2 separate regions of the Homo sapiens genome follow, and region 2 is linked to region 1. Evidence: fine-mapped expression QTL. Tissue or cell type: whole blood. Region 1 holds a variant in brackets; the other region holds the start of a gene. All regions are shown on one strand. Distances are between the middles of the regions.

Region 1 (8,259 bases):
AGGCGATGATGGAACAACACTGTGAAGGTACTAAATACCTCTGAATACACTCTAAAATGGTTAAATTAACATTATGTGAATTTTACCCGAATAAATAAACCAACTAATCAGCCTTGGCTCTTCCTTGGCTTCTCTCCCACTCCCATACATCCCACCTGTCAGTCAATCCCATCAGCTTTGCACTCAAAATATATACAAATATACCCAGAATCTAGGTTGGGTGCGGTGGCTCACACCTGTAATCCCAACATTTTAGGAGGCTGAGGCGGGCGGATCACCTGAGGTCAGGAGTTGGAGACCAGCCTGGCCAAGGTGGTGAAACCCTGTCTCTACTAAAAATACAAAAATTAGCAGAGCATGGTGGCAAGCGCCTATAATCCCAGATACTTGGGAGCCTGAGGCAAGAGAACTGCTTGAACTCGGGAGGCGAAGGTTGCAGTGAGCCGAGATCTTGCACTCCAGCCTGGGTGACAGAGCAAGACTCCGTCTCAAAAATAAATAAATAAAAATTTAAAAATTAAAAAAAAAAGACACACACACACACACACACACAATTTGTCACTTACCACCACCTCGCTGCCTCCATGCCAGTCTTAGCCACTGTCACCTCCCAACAGAGGACAGCAGGAGCCTGCTGACCAGCCTCCCAGTCCAGTTCCGACCCTCAGAGGCCTGCGTTCCTCGAGGCAGCCAGGGGGATCCTGTTAAATCGAAAGTCAGGTCCCATCTCCCGCCCTGCCCCTGCTTTAAACCTCCCCAAGCAGCATCGCATCGTGGTCAAAGCCAAAGTCCTTCCTACAACCCACCAGGCCACTGTGTTCCCCCACCTTGTCCCCACTGTGATCCTGGGTTCTCTCTCTCTCTCTGGCCACCCACTGGCCTCCTGCTGCCCCCACATACCTGCTACCCCCAGCTCTTTGTTGGATCTCCTGTCCTGACATCTGTGGGCTTACTGCTCACTTCCTCATGCCTTTAGGCCTCCTTGGCTGGTCCTTCCTGAAGTTTCAGCTCCATCCCAACACTCCCACCCCTTCCTTGATGTAGTCTTGCCTAGCATATGGCATATTTTATTCCTTAGGCTTGTATCTATGGACTGACTCCTACCCCAAAATATAAGCTCCATGAGGGTGGGACTTTTCCCTTTTTTGTTCCTTGCTATGTCCTCATTGTGTGGGACAGTGCCCAGCATAGAGAACATGCCTAAGAAATATCTGACAAATGAATGGATTCCAATTCACCTAAGCCCATGTATTTGTATTTGCTTTGCAGAGGTGGGTGTGCATGTGTGCGTGTGTGTACACATGCATGTGTCAGACAGGCATCCATCCTATCCAGGAGATAGGAAACCAAGAATGCAAAGACAACTCAGCAGATCTGCTGGCATGGAGGCGAGGCTGCATGGAAGGATCTGGATTGGATAGGAGTGTCCCATTCAGGACATGTGTCACTCAAAACCACACAACTCAGACTTGGGGAATATTCTATGCCAGTCACATCTGTTTACAACACGTGTGGCATCTCCTGTGGACGGAGTTGACAGTCTCATCCTGAGATAGGCAGAGCCTGGCGTGGAAGTGAGAGCCTTCATCTGGGATGAGACAGCAGGAGGCAGGGAGGGGACACACTGGGGGACATCACGTGGGGCCAGGCAGTGTCCACCCAGCTCTGGCACAGCCTGAGAGTCATCACTTCCTCAGTTTTCACACCCTGGGCACCTCCACCTCGCCTGCCTCCCCCGACCCCGGCCCCATGGCCAGACCTTTCTTCCACATAATTCCCAGGAGTGCTATATGCATGAACCAAGCTAAGGTGTCAATCTCGTTTCAGAACCACAGCACGGCTCCCCATAAAAGTCATCTTTATGGACAGATATTTCATGGCGGCAGCTTGAGAAGGCTCACGTTTCTTAGGCAGCTGGTGCAGAGCCAGGAGAGCTAATCATGAGATCTTCCAGTCCCAGGACGTGGGCTGCAGCTGGCGGCTGTGGTCGTCTTATATCAAACTCTCAAGAGTCACAGGGCAGCAGCATTGGCCCCCTCCCAAGTCATTCCAGATGGGATTTAAGGTGGCTTAATGAGCATTCATAAAATACAGCAAGAGAACATAAACTGAAAAGGGTGTGCAAGAAGAAATCAAATGGGAACTACATGAAATGAGCCAGAGACAGGAGGGAGGGGGAAGAAGAGGGAGGGGGAAGAACAGGCGGGAGGGGGATGAACAGGGAGGGGCCCCCTAAGCCACTGGAAAGTGTGGCAAGACTTCCCGGAGCCGGACAGAGCAGATTCTTGAGGGGTGCGCAGGAGTCTCGTAGGCCAGGATGGAGAGGAAGGGCCTGTAGGCAGAAGACTGGTGTGTGCAAAGGAACCAGAGAGAGAAGGAGGCGGGGAGGGGAGAGGGGGTGCCGGGAGGAGGGAGAGGAAGCTCAGTAGTTGTGGGGGATAGCGAGGGGGATTGGGGAATGAACTGTTTCCCGCAAATGCCTCAGCCATAGTTGAAAGGATTCCCACTCCCTTCCCCACTCACAAAGTCCTGGTGCCCTTGGCCCGGCTGCGCAGGCCCTCATTCCCTGAGCTCCCAAGAGGTGCAGTGATTTATCCGATGCGAAGCGCGAAGCTCGGGAGTCCGACTGCACCCGGAGGTGGTGGGGGCGGGGGGACGGAGGGGCGGAGGGGCAAGAGTACTACAAGAAAAGGCCGGGGCCTGCTCTCTGCTCTCTCCTCTCTCTGGACCTGCCTGAGCCCCAGGGGCACGGTCTGCACCATCTGCCTGTGAACAGGAGCGCTTAATTCAGAGTGGCCGGCAGAGACCCTGGGTCCGATGATCCAGAAGTCTGACATCGAGCTTCTGCTCATTAGCCGCAACCCTCCCCTGGGTCCTGGAATCTGTTCTCAGGTGACCGTGGAGGAGGCGATGCTGAGTGATCAACACCTCGGATCTCCAGCTGTCGGTGCAATGACCAAGAAGGCCTTGGTGAATGTTAAAGAAACAATTATTCCATGACATTGGTAAAGCATGGCCGAGCCAACTTTATCCAGGACCGTGGAGATTGATACAGGGACCCCCACAATAAGATCTTGCGGTAGGGGAGAGAGATTAGGCTCCACTCTGAATATAGCACAGGCAAGTAGGAATTTATGGCCAAGGAGTGTGGGGGTCAGTGGATGGAAAATTACCAAGGGGTAGGGGAGATTCTGCTTAACCCGACCTAACAGGATTCTTGCTGACACAGGCCAGGGTTCTTTCGCTAAAACTGGATTTTTTTTTTTTTTTTTTTGAGACGGAATCTCACTCTGTGGCCCAGGCTGAAGTGCAGGGGCATGATCTCAGCTCACTGCAACCTCCATCTCCCGGGTTCAAGTGATTCTCCTGCCTCAGCCTCCCAAGTAGCTGGGATTACAGGCATGCACCACCACGCCCAGCCAACTTTTGTATTTTTTTGGTGGAGACAGGGTTTCACCATGTTGCAAGCTGGTCTCGAACTTCTGACCTCAAGTGATCCGCCCACCTCAGCCTCTTAGAGTGCTGGGATTACAGGCGTGAGCCACCGCGCCTGGCCTAGAACTGCATTTTACAAGGAAGTGCACAGATGGGCCTAGCAGAAGATTCAGAAGCCTGACTAAAGTTTGGCCGAGCAAAGAATCTTTATCTGTAACTCTCATTCAATGACCAAGACGCCCTTTAGGAGCTCTTGGAAGAGCCCTCATGATGGGGTGAGTGTCCTTATATGGAGAGATCGGGGCCAGGCGAGGTGGCTCACACCTGTAATCCCAACACTTTGGGAGGCCATGGTGGGAGAATCACTTCAGCCCAGGAGTTCGAGACCAGCCTGGGCAACATGGCAAGACCCTAACTCTACAAAAAAATTTTTAAATTAGCCTGGTGTGGTGGTGTGCACCTAGCTATTTGGAGGCTGAGGAGGGAGGCTCACTTGAGGCTGGGAGGTTGAGGCAGCAGTGAGCCGTGATCTTGCCACCACTGCACTCCAGCCTGGGCTGTTCTGTTGAACGAGATCCTATCTCAAAAAACAAAAACAAACCTTGGAAGGACTGGCTTTTGGGGCTCTGAGGACTATGAGGAAGGATCAGTGTTTCTGGCCACCTACAGGTCTTGAGCCTGTGCAGGATGCGACTGGCTTTTATCGCAATTCCAGCTGATATTGAAGGGTGTGCCACAGCAGATGGAGTGACAGAAAAACAAAGAATTTAGGAAAACACACACAGACATACACACACACACACACAGAGACACACAGAAACACAGACATACGCAGGCACACAGGCACACCCATACACACATAGACACAGACACACACACACATACACAGACACACAGACATATACACAGACACACACAGACATATACACAGACACACACAGACATGAACACAGACACACACACACAGACACAGAGACACACACATTCACACACACACAGAGACAGACACACACAGACACACACACTCCCACACATAGACTCACACACACAGACACACACAGGGGAAGGGTTTCATCTTAGGATGAGTCAAGGCTTGTCCAGGAGCTCACACTCCACAAGCGCAGAAGGCCCCTGAGCTGAGACCCAGTCCAAGCTCGGTGCGTGGGTCTTTTGTGGGGCGCGAGGCCCTGGGAGTCCACTGCGGAATTTTGCTCATTAATTTGCTTTCCCTCCTCACTCAATTTCTAAGTCAGCTTAGCAAACCTGGAGTTTAAATTGCAAAAGCCCCAAGGGTTCAACTCTGACCTTTGGCAGGGACGGGATTTACCCTGAAGCCCATGGGCCCTTCTCCTGAGCCGGCCCTTCCAGAGGCCAGGAATTCCGGGTGGAGCTAGGTTTTGTGACCCCTGAGCCTAATAGAATGGAGGTGGGGAGCTCTTTAGAAAAAGGATGCCAGGCCAGATG[C/A]AGTGGCCCACGCCTGTAATCCCAACACTTTGGGAGGCCGAGGCAGCCAGATCACCTGAGGTCGGGAGTTCGGGACCAGCATGGCCAACATGGAGAAACCCTGTCTCTACTAAAAATACAAAATTAGCCAGGTGTGGTGGCGCATGCCTGTTAATCCCAGCTACTCGGGAAGCTGAGGCAGGAGAAACGCTTGAACCCAAGAGATGGAGGTTGTGGTGAGCTGAGATCGCACCATTGCACTCCAGCCTGGGCAACAAGAGCAAAACTCCATCTCAAAAAAAAAAAAAAGAATTTTAGGGGGACACAGAGATTCAGTCCATAGAGGTGTGACAACACATACGAAATATTGCAACCAGAGATGCTCAGCCAAGCCCTAATGTCCCAAGTCTTATTAGGGGTCAGTCATAGAGGCATGTGGCACCCACGTGACTGACCTTAACTATTTCATCTCCAGCCCTAGCTTAAGGCAGACTGATACAGCCTGGCCCAGGGCCCCAGGCGAAAAAAAACAGGCATTCGCCATAAATCACATTGCTGGCATAAACTGTCTCAGGTGGCCCAAGGCCCCAGGTGAAAAAAACACTCCTGTTAGGCAGGATATTCCAAGGGCGCAGAGCTTATCTCCCAGGGGCCAGGCAAGGGCCAGTCCTCTCTTTGGAATGTGCAGGGTTTGGGCAGCCCAGGCCTGTTGAGTTAACCCCTTACTCCACAGGGCCCCTGCTGTATACATGGCATTACACAGAGTTAGATTCCAAAGCAGGAGGCAAAAATCACGTGGAATCAGTGACCCTCGAAAAATCCCTCTGGAAGATGCTATTTTGGAGTCCTCATCTCTCAGGAAGTCCGGCACAGCTGGGCTTCCCTCCAGGGCTGCAGCTGGCTCGCACTGAGGCTGCACTATGTGGAAAACGTGGTCTGCAAATCCTCCACTGGCAGTCAGCTGTGACACGCTGGCCCTGGGGTCATGCTAGGGAGCTGCATCCCAGAGGGGCCTCTCCTGCCCACTCCAGGAGGCCCATTGAGGGACCTGCCTCCAACAGGAGCTCAGCAATATGTAAATGATTCTTTCTCCTTTTTCCACCAGCTACATTTAATACAATCTGCAAAAGCTAAATGTGTATTTGATTCAACTCCCTTCCGGGGAATGAGTCTTCTTCTTGGGGTGAAGTCAAGAATAATGATCACAGTGAATACTCAGTGGGTGCTTGCTTTGTGACGGGGACATTTCTCAGCGTTCTGTGGGTTAGCCCATCAAATCCTCACACCCTGCCTCTGAGATAGGGTAATCTATTATATGCATTTTGCGATGAGGAGACTGAGACATGAAGACCTTAAATAATGTGCCCAGGCCAGGTGTGGTGGCTCACACCTGTAATCCCAGCACTATGGGAGGCCAAGGCAGGAGGGTCACTTGAACCTAGGAGTTCAAGATCAGCCTGGGCAACATGCTGAGACTCCTTGTCTACAAAAAAAAAAAAAAAAAAAAAAAAATTAGCTGACCGCAGTGGGAGTCTACAAAAAAAAAAATTAGCTGACCGTGGTGGTGTGCCCCTATATTTCCAGCTACTTGGGAAGCTGAGGTGGGAGAATCACTTGAGCCCAGGAGGTCAAGGCTGCAGTGAGCTATGATGATGCTGCTGCACTCTAGCCTGGGCGACAGAGCAAAACCCTGTCTCAAAAAAAAAGTAAATAAATAAATAATGTGCCCAAGGTCCCACAGCTAGTTGGTGGAAGGGGCCACAGTTTTAACCTAGGCAGTCCGGCTCTGGACTCTGCCTCTTAACCGCTATCTTCTTTTGTCTCTGAAAGGCAAATTAGTGTAATTATTGTAAACCCGAAAGCTAAGAAGGAGATGTGAATGCATTCCTGCAGGACGCTGTCACCAGCTACTAGCTGTGCATACAGACTCAAGCAGAAATGGAATTGGCTCAAAAACAAATGTTACAGCCAGAACAGGAGCTGGGAAAAAGTGACTGAAAAATGGCCCGGCGCGGTGGCTCACACCTGTAATCCCAGCACTTTGGGAGGCTGAGGTGGGAGGATCACCTGAGGTCAGGAGTTTGATACCAGCCTGGCCAACATGGTGAAACCCTGTCTCTACTAAAAATACAAAAATTAGCTGGGCGTGGTGGCAGGCGCCTGTAATCCCAGCTACTCGGGAGGCTGAGGCACGAGAGTCACTTGAACCCAGGAGGTGGAGGTTGCAGTGAGCCCAGATCACGCCACTGCACTCCAGCCTGGGCGACAGAGTGAGACTTTGTCTCAAAAAGAAAAAAAAAAAAAGAAGAAGAAGAAAGTGACTGAAAAATTAAGGAAGTCATCCTGGCTGAACTGGAGGAAGAGGGGAATTGCCTTAGGAGAAGAGTTGGGCCCTTAGAGGTCAGGGGAGGCAGGTAGGAATGGGGGCAAGGGAAATTTTGCCATCCCACCCTCCTAAGTGCCCTGGCAGAAGGAACTAGGAGAAGGAAGCCTTCTTTTATTGTCACTGGATTGGGGAGGTGACTTGGAGATGAGAAATCTAACAGGGGTAACTAGAACACCTCCAGAGTCAGCTGGAATGGCCCACCCGGGAGATTCCAGGACAGGTGCTCCTCAAAAGCCTCCCTCCTCCTGAAGCTCTCATTGTGGGGGGGCCTCCTTTAAGGAGCTGGAGACCCCAGGAGTGGTTACAGAAAACTTGGCAGTTGTGAGAAGAGTCCAGAAAGATAATCACAGAACAGGCTGGACCCTGAATTTCACGGTGACCCTGTGATGTTAGGTGGGGAAGCAGGAGTGGTCTGAGCCCTGAGGCGATGTGCCTGGTCCATCCTAGGAGCTGGGGGTTCAGAGCCAAGCAGCACTCTGGGTGCAGTCACGACTGGCTTAGATGTTGGGCAGGGAGAAGGTGTTGGGCTGAGGATGGGGAGGGCTTTTTGGAACAACAGGTACTTTCGGCAAAATCAGACTCTAATTATTTTATCTCTCTCATTATGGGGAATCCACAAGGCAGAATCTGCAATGATCCAGGTCTATATCAGTCATGGTCCCATCAGGAGACAGAAACCATGTGTTGTGTTAACAGAGGAAATTTAATATAAAAAATTATTAACTAGGCATTGAAAAACTAAAAATGCAAAAAAGAGAACTCTAAGGGGAGAACCTTCCAGGAAGCAACACACACCCCCAGGGCTGGAGGAATGAAGAAGGGACTGGAATTATGAAAACATGGAAGGCTAGAATGCAGACCTCTAAGGAGCAGACAGGGTCAGCAGGTGCTGTGATGTCTCCAGAGGGGTTTGAAGGGGCTGGTGTGCCTGCTGGAAAAACTGCAAACTGGATCCAGCAGCTACTGCAGGAAGGAACTGCCGCTGCCACAGTGAA
Region 2 (8,000 bases), 42 kb before region 1:
TGCTGCCCCAGGCAGCTCCCAGCCAGTGCCTACCTGCAGCAGGGGTAGGAGACCCTGGCATTCCTTCCCAACGTGGGACTCCTCTTTGAGCAATCTTGGTTCCAGAGCCCCTGCTGGGCTGGCCAGACTCCCTCCAAGCTGCACTGCAGTCCAAGGCTTTTCCTACCCAATCCTCCTTCCTTCCTCATCTCCTCTCACAGGTGTCAGACCCTCCTCAGAGCCTGAAAGTCCCCAGCCCCCTCCTGCCCCCTCCTTTACCTGTCACAGGTACTACCTCCATAAATCCCCTGCTTTTCTAACTCCATCCACCCAATTCCCACAGGACCAGAGCTGGCCATGCCCTCTTCCCAGTGTACGGCTGCTGGAGAAAATGGCTAAGTTCCCTGTTATGTGTTGGATCATGCCTCCACCATTCCCCCGGTACTGGGGAAATCCTGATCCCCAGGACCGTGAATGAGACCTTATTTGGAAATAGAGTCTTTGCAGATGATCAAGCTAAGATGAGGTTATTAGGATAGGCCCTAATTCATTACGACTGTGTCCTTATAAAAAGGGGAAATTGGAGGTGGGAGGATCCCTTGAGGCCAGGAGTTTGAGACCAGCCTGGGCAACACAGCAAGACCCCATCTCTAAAAATTTCTAAAATTAGGCTGTCGTGGTGGTGCACAACTATAGTCCAGCTATTCAGCAGGCTGAGACGGGAGGATCGCTTGAGCCCAGGAAGTCGAGGCTGCAGTAAGCCATGATCGTGCCACTGCACTCCATCCTGGAGTGTAGACAGAGTGAGACCCTGTCTCAAAAAACAAAAAATGGGTGGGGCAAGGAGAGAATTTGGACGCAGAGACAAGTAAGCACATGGGCAGAACATCACGGGAAGATGAAGGCAGAGGTCGGGGTGATGCATCTCTAAACCAGGGAGCGCCTAAGACTGCCAGGGAGCTAGAAGAGAGGCAGCGCAGACACCCCTCACGGCCCTCGGAGGGAGCCAGCCCTGCTGATGCCTCAATTTTGGACTTCCAGTCTCCAGAACTGTGGGAGACAATGCATTTTTTTTTTTTTTTTTGAGACAGAGCCTCGGTCTGTCGCCCAGGCTGGAGTGCAGTGGCACGATCTTGGCTCACCACAAGATCTGCCTTCCAGGTTCACACCATTCTCCTGCCTCAGCCTCCTGAGTAGCTGGTACTGCAGGCGCCCACCACCACGCCTGGCTAATTTTTTTTTTTTTTGTATTTTTAGTAGAGACGGGGTTTCACCGTGTTAGCCAGGATGGTCTCGATCTCCTGACCTTGTGATCCGCCCACCTTGGCCTCCCAAAGTGCTGGATTACAGGCGTGAGCCACCGTGCCTGGCCAGGACAATGCATTTCTATTGTTTAAGCCACCCAGTCTGGGGCAGGTTTTTACAGCAGCCCCAGGAAACCGATACAGTCCTGGGGGATGGTATGGCTGCGGGGTCCTTCCTCTTGGGACCTGCCCCTCTTCCACTGATGGATTCTGAGATTGAGAACAAGTTCAGATTTGGAAACAGCAGGGGATCATTCCTTTCTGTTGGGGCATCCGGCCTTGGACTTCTGCTCATCGATTCTTGGTTGCTTTTCATTCTATTTGTTGAACAAAATCCTTGCCGGCTGCCTAGACACCTTCCCCCTGGAAATGCTATGTCCTATGAGCCATCTCCATAGGCTGGGCAGGGCAGGCTCCCCCGCGGCTGTCCCAACCCTGCTGTCCATTCTGATCCTCTCACCCCCTTGCTTGTGACAGACAGTTAAGTGCTGCCCTTTGACCTGTGCTACTCGGGAATCCAGTTGTCCCTGTGGCTATGGGAGAGCTCAGATCCATGGCAGCCCACCCCTGCCAGGCCCGGGCAACCCTCACAGGGCTGCTCAGCAACGCCAATGTCTCCTCGACAGCTCAGGCCTTATCATTTGGGTAAAGAGCTGGAACCTTCCAAAGAACATGGCCAGCTGGTGGGTTTTCCACCCTGTTTCGTGGTGAACAGGTCTGTGCAAATCTACCTGCAAAGGCCGAGGGAGCTGAGAGGCTGAAGAAAGAGGCTGACAAATCCAGTTTCTTGTAAAGAAATATTTAATAGGGACTTAGGAGCAGAAGCGATGTTCCGGGCTGCCACAAAATGGTAGATCCCCACATCTGCCCTGCAGAAAGTACTTTTATGTAGCAAGCTTTTAGGGTAAAACATGTGCAGGTGGCCATATCTCCGATTTTAATGCAAAACTCATAGCCACTTGGGGAGGGGGTTAGCTAAGCATCTTTACAAAGGGTTATGTATGGTACAGGCATTGTTTAAAGAGCTTACTGCAGAGCAGCTTGGTATATGGGGGTGAAACATTCATCATCATATGGCGGTTTTAAGATGGCATCACTCTTGTCACACTGTTTTCCTGTACAACCTACAATAGAAGAGCCATTCTGGCGTGTCCACTTCTCTGAGACTTTGCATACCTTCCTCCAGGGCTGTTCTGACATCTCCACTTCATCGCCTATGCACTATCACTTCTTCCAAGCTTTCAAGAACTGCCTCAAGTGCTGGGCACTGTGGCTCACACCTGTAATCCCAGCACTTTGGGAGGCCAAGGTGGACAGATCACTTGAGGTCAAGAGTTCGAGACCAGCCTGGCCAACATGGCAAAATCCCATCTCCACTAAAAAAAAAAAAAACAATACATTATCTGGGCATGGTGGTGCATGCCTGTAATCCCAGGTACTCGGGAGGCTGAGACAGGAGGATCGCTTGAACCTGGGAAGTGGAGGTTGCAGAGCCAAGATCGCACCACTGTACTCCAGCCTGGGCGACAGAGAGAAATTCTGTCTCAAAAAAAAAGAACCCTCCCAAGCAACATATTAGAATCTTCCCAGGGCCTTTTTAGGGGTTAGGGAGTCTTTCTGTACTAATTAACTCTCCAGTCTCCAGCTACTATGCAGCCTCCCTTGATCTAGAACCTTCAGAGTCCACATCTAGGAACATTCTCTAGACCCGGCTGGTCCCTGCTGGCTTGCTCCCACCACTCCTCTGCTTGTTAATCCCTCTTGGTCCCTGGCATGCAAAGCACATCCTTGGTCAGGTCATGCTGAGATATGATCCAGCTTTGAGCCTGGTGGTCAGGAGGGGAGGTGGGGACAGATGCTGGAGAGAGGAACTCCTTATCTTGTAAGGTCCCTTCCCTTAGTTTCTGCATGGTCTTTAAGCAAAAGAGGACCTCTGTCTTCCAACAGAGGCAATGGGTCACTTCTGCAGGCCAGGAGGTACAGGAGAATCTGGGGGTTCAATGTCTCAAGAGTGTCTCCTCAGATAGTCCATCTCAGATATCAGGGACCCCACCCTTCCCTTTGGGGCCCTGACTTTGGAGAAGGGACTTCCCTGGGCTGGAAATTTGGCCTTCTCTGGAGTCCTGCACCTTGTCTTCTGCCCTCTGACCCCTGGCTATAGAAGAGAAGCATTTCGTTAAATTCTGCCAAGGAATCCTGACTTTGCTTTAAATTGGTGATGCGTGGCCCTGAACTTGTCATTTTCCCTCTTCTAAGTGTCAGTAGTATTCAGTGACAGCCTCCCCACTCCACGTCCTTCTCACGGCTATTTTCCCATCTGTCTCTCAACATCAGTGATATTAAACGAGCCGGGCATCCCCGTCCACCTGAGTCCTGTCCCAGGTGACCACAGGCGGAGGCCTGAGCAGCTGCTCTGCCACCTCGTGCCAGGGGCCTCCGCAACGGGCTCCAGTCACCAGGGGCCAGCGGGGCATCCTCCTGCAGCATCCCGTCCTTGGGGCCAGCTTCCTGGGGCCCCTCCTGCTGTTCCCTGCCTTCAGCTGTCTGAAAACAGAGCCCAAGACAGGGATTTACTAGGGGAGGGCTCATCCTGGGACAAGCCGCCCAGGATGTGAGGGCAGAGGGGCGGGGAAGGAGAAAGGACTCGGTAAAGGCGTGGTCCCAGGGTAAATACAGCTCTGGCAGATATGCAGGGGGCCCTGGGGCAGAGGTATCGCCATCTAGAGGCAGGCGAGGGAACAGTCTTTTGTACAGTTAGCCGTGGGCTGTGGGCGTCGCCTGAACGTACCAGGTATTGTGGCTCCATTGGCTGAGGATGCTTCTCCAGCGAAGGAGGCAGGGAGCCGGGGAAGTGGGGTGGGGTCGCGACACCGACAGCAGCTGCCAGACCAGCCATGCTGCGCTCAGCTCCCTCAGGCTGTCACTCTTAATCATCATGTCACTATCTCTGGGGCGTGTCAGTCACCATCAACGACGTGTCCCCCAAGCTGCAGAGGACGCAAATCCAGCTCTCCAAGAGGCTCTGTTGGCCCTCTCCACATGGGCTTGAGGTCAGGGGTGGGGGCACGTTCGGACCGCCCTCCTGCCTCTCTGAAGAAGATCCTCCAAGTCCCGGCTCCAGCTCTCCGGCCTCTTTGGCAGCTGGGCGGGTGGCCATCCAGGAGGCCCGTTCTCCATGCCCAGTTTGGCAAGGCTCCTTGGGACGCCGGGCTCGCTGCCCCTGTTTTCTTAAAGCTTCGGCCCAAAGGGACCCAGAGTCTGAGGTTAACACTCCGTCATCCCAGCGTGAGCGGCGCCTGACTCCAGCTCTCGACTCCCCCACCTCCTATCCCCTGCGCCGGGCTCACCCTGCACTCCCACCTGCAAATCAGCAGAGCAGAGGCCAGCGCTCCCGACGTCCAGCACCACCCCAAGCGAGGCAGGGGGAGCTGAGTGGCCGGGAGCGCCATCTAGTGGGTGCCAGGGGCGAGTCCCCGAAAGAGACTGGAGAGCCACGACTCGGGCAGGGCAGGATGGTGTCCCAGGGAGGGCCGGGGCCCAGGCGCTGGACAGCAGAGGACATAAAGGGAGAGGCATGGGAGAGCGAGGAGCCAGGGTGCTTCCGGGGCGCATGAGCCCCACCCCAGCCTGCCCCTGCCCTCGTAACCAGATGACTCGGCTCAGGCAGGACACACCACGTCCAGTCTCTGTCCCCTCTCCAGACTCTTGGGAAAGTGTCACTTAAAATCCATTTGGGTCTGGTGTTTGCTTTATTCCAAGGAAAGGGGTAAGGAAAAATTCAGAAAAGGGGCGAGGGTCTCCCCTCTCCACAGTGGCAGTCAGGGGAATAGTGACATTCACCCCCTCCCCCAACCTGGTCTTGAACGTGGCAGGGAAGAGAACTGAGCCACCTGTCACCCAGAGGGGGAGGGGGAAGGTCAGAACTCCAGCCTTCCCACAGCAGACACGCCTGCGGGGCAGGAAGCAGGCAGGCTCCACGCAGTGTAGACATGTGCACTCACACGGATGTTAACAGTCTGGAAGAAACTGACCTGGCTGTGAATAGAGGCTCTCTCATGGGGAAGGGGCAGAAGATGGAGCTTTCACTTCTCCATTTATACACTTCTCCAAAATGTGGTGGGACCATGAGGAAACTGCACTTTCAGTTTTGATCTCTTTTTGTATTTTTTCAGTTAAAATGCAATTGGGAACAATGGGGTGTTAAGTGCCTCAGTGTGGAAGGCTGCGGCATCACCATTGAAATGCTGTATCAGACCTGGATTGGATCCACCCTCGACTCAGGGCTGTGCAAACTGGGACCCAGATCCCGCGCTGTGGGAACGGAGCCCTGCTCCGCTGTTTACATGTTGTCTCTGGCTGCGGCCTCGCTGTGACAGCAGAGTTGAGGAATTGCCACAGAGACTGTTATAGCCCACAAAGCCCAAAATATTTACTCGCTGGCTCTTTATGGAAAAAGTTTGCCAACTATCAAATTACAAGAAATACAGGGACTGGGGAGCCTGCTCAACAAAGCTAAGGGGACGTGACCAGCAAAATCCAGACTGCAGGCAACCATAGGACAAAGCGCCAGTTTCTTCAATACGTAATTTGCAACAGCAACCTGCTTACTAGAGGCCAGGAAGGGGAGGGGGAAAGGAGGGGATGAAGAAAGGTTGATGAGTGGGTACAAATACACACTTACATAGACGAAATAACATCTGGTGTTCAATAGATCAGTAGGGTGACATTAATCGATTGTACACTTCAAAATTGCTAGAAAAGAATAATCCTAATGTTCCTGGCACAAGGAAAAGATAAATATTTAAGATGATGGACATCCCAATTACCCTGATTTGATTATAGGAATGTATCCAATTATCATGCACATCCCGAAACTAGATACAGCTAGTGTATTTCAACTTTTATAAAGAAAAGAAAAAAACGGGCGGGGTGCAGTGGCTCGCGCCTGTAATCCCAGCATTTTGGGAGGCTGAGGTGGGCAGATCACTTGAGGTCAGGAGTTCCAGACCTGCCTGGCCAACATGGTGAAACCCCTTCTGTACTAAAAATACAAAAATTAGCCAGATGTGGTGGTGTGCACCTGTAATCCCAGCTGCTCCGGAGGCTGAGGCAGGAGAATCGCTTGAACCCGGGAGGCAGAGGTTGCAGTGAGCAAGACTCCATCTGAAAAGAAAAGAAAAGAAATGAAAAGAAAAGACAGAGGGGGCCCATAGATTTAAAAGAGGCTGAGCAGTGACAGATAATAGAAGTGTGGATGGTAAGAAAATAAAGTCTCATTTTTCATGGTAGCAAGTGAGATCTCAAATCCGAGATCAGAAAGTGAAGAAAATCAGGAATTAAGAGTAGAAGCCATTTCACTTAGAAATGAAGGTTTAAGAAAAAGATGAGGCCGGGCGCAGTGGCTCACGCCTGTTATCCCAGCACTTTGGGAGGCCGGGGCAGGTGGATCACCTGAGGTTGGGAATTCAAGACCAGTCTGACCAACATGGTGAAATTCCATCTCTACTAAAAATACAAAAATTAGCCGGGCGTGGTGGTGTATGCCTGTAGTCCCAGCTACTCAGGAGGCTGAGGCAGGAGAATCACCTGAACTCGGCAGGCGGAGGTTGCAGTGAGCCAAGATCGCACCATTGCACTCCATCCTGGGCAACAAAAGCAAAACTCCATCTCGAAAAAAAAAAGAAGAAAGAAAGAAAAAGATGAAACATCTACTCAAAAACTGAAAGTGGGTGCCCCTAATGAGGGAGTTTTGGGAATCAGAGAAATGGAGCAGAGAACTCTTTTTTATTTATATAATTTTAAGCCTAGTAGTAGTGTTTGAATTTTTTAATTTTGTATACGTTTAAACAAAATATTTAAATATTAATATTTGAATCCAATAACAACTTAAGTTTTTTAACTTAATTAAATATATTTATAATCTTGGATTAAGGAAAGCCTTTTTAAACATGACCTGAGGCTGGGTACTTTGGAAGGCCAAGGTGGGCGGATCACTTGAGGTCATAAGTCGAGACCAGCCTGGCCAACCAACGTGGTGAAACCCCATCTCTATTAAAAATACAAAAATTAGCCAGATGTAGTGGTGGTCGTCTGTAATCCCACCTACTCAGGAGGCTGAGGCAGGAGAATCACTTCAACCCAGGAGGCAGTGAGCTGTGATTGTACCACTGCACTCCAGCCTAGGCGAAAAAGCAAGACTCTGTCTCAAAATAAATAAATAAATAAAAATAAATAAATAAACCTGACCTGAAAACCAGAAACTAAATGGTTGATCTATGCGGCTGCATGAGAATCTCAAACTTCTCTCTGAGAAAGCTATTATATATTATATATATAATATATATAACTATACAACTATACACACACACACACACACACACACACACACATATATATATATGTATGGTTGAAAGACTACTGACAACTGGAAAAAAGATTTGTAACAGATAATACAGATGGAGGGTTAATATGATAGTTTTTTCTCGCAAGCAACAGAAACTGACCTTAGCTGATTTAAGCAGAAAAGGGATGAGTATCAAGTACCACCACAGACTTTCTGGGTGGGCTGGAGAACCAGGCTTGCAGGCCTCCCAGACAGGAACAGAAACTGTGCTCCAGCTGGTCAAGTAAAGACACCATGGCTACCTTTTTACTGGGTCCTGCGCACTGCCACGGATCAGCTGCCATTGCTTTCACTCTCTCTGGAATCAAGTCTGC

What was found. PIP is the estimated chance that this variant, and not a neighbour inherited with it, causes the effect.
Region 2: LINC02724 starts here. The variant in region 1 is fine-mapped to the expression of LINC02724 in whole blood (INTERVAL, PIP above 0.99).

The regions. Positions count from the first base shown.
Region 1 is chr11:64,403,928-64,412,186 of GRCh38, reverse strand. It overlaps LOC105369341 (a long non-coding RNA gene), which reads left to right. Exons shown (of 4, transcript XR_001748069.2): 3 at 1-27; 4 at 1,270-2,109. Among named protein-coding and RNA genes, the nearest start is that of LINC02723, 12 kb to the right of the region's middle. RefSeq lists an enhancer at 4,463-5,094. The variant C/A (reference allele first, on the strand shown) is at 4,900.
Region 2 is chr11:64,445,724-64,453,723 of GRCh38, reverse strand. It overlaps LINC02724 (long intergenic non-protein coding RNA 2724), which reads right to left and starts at 4,667. Exons shown (of 2, transcript NR_073177.1): 1 at 4,072-4,667; 2 at 2,067-3,827. RefSeq lists a silencer at 3,947-4,142, a cis regulatory region at 3,920-4,189 and an enhancer at 4,079-4,328.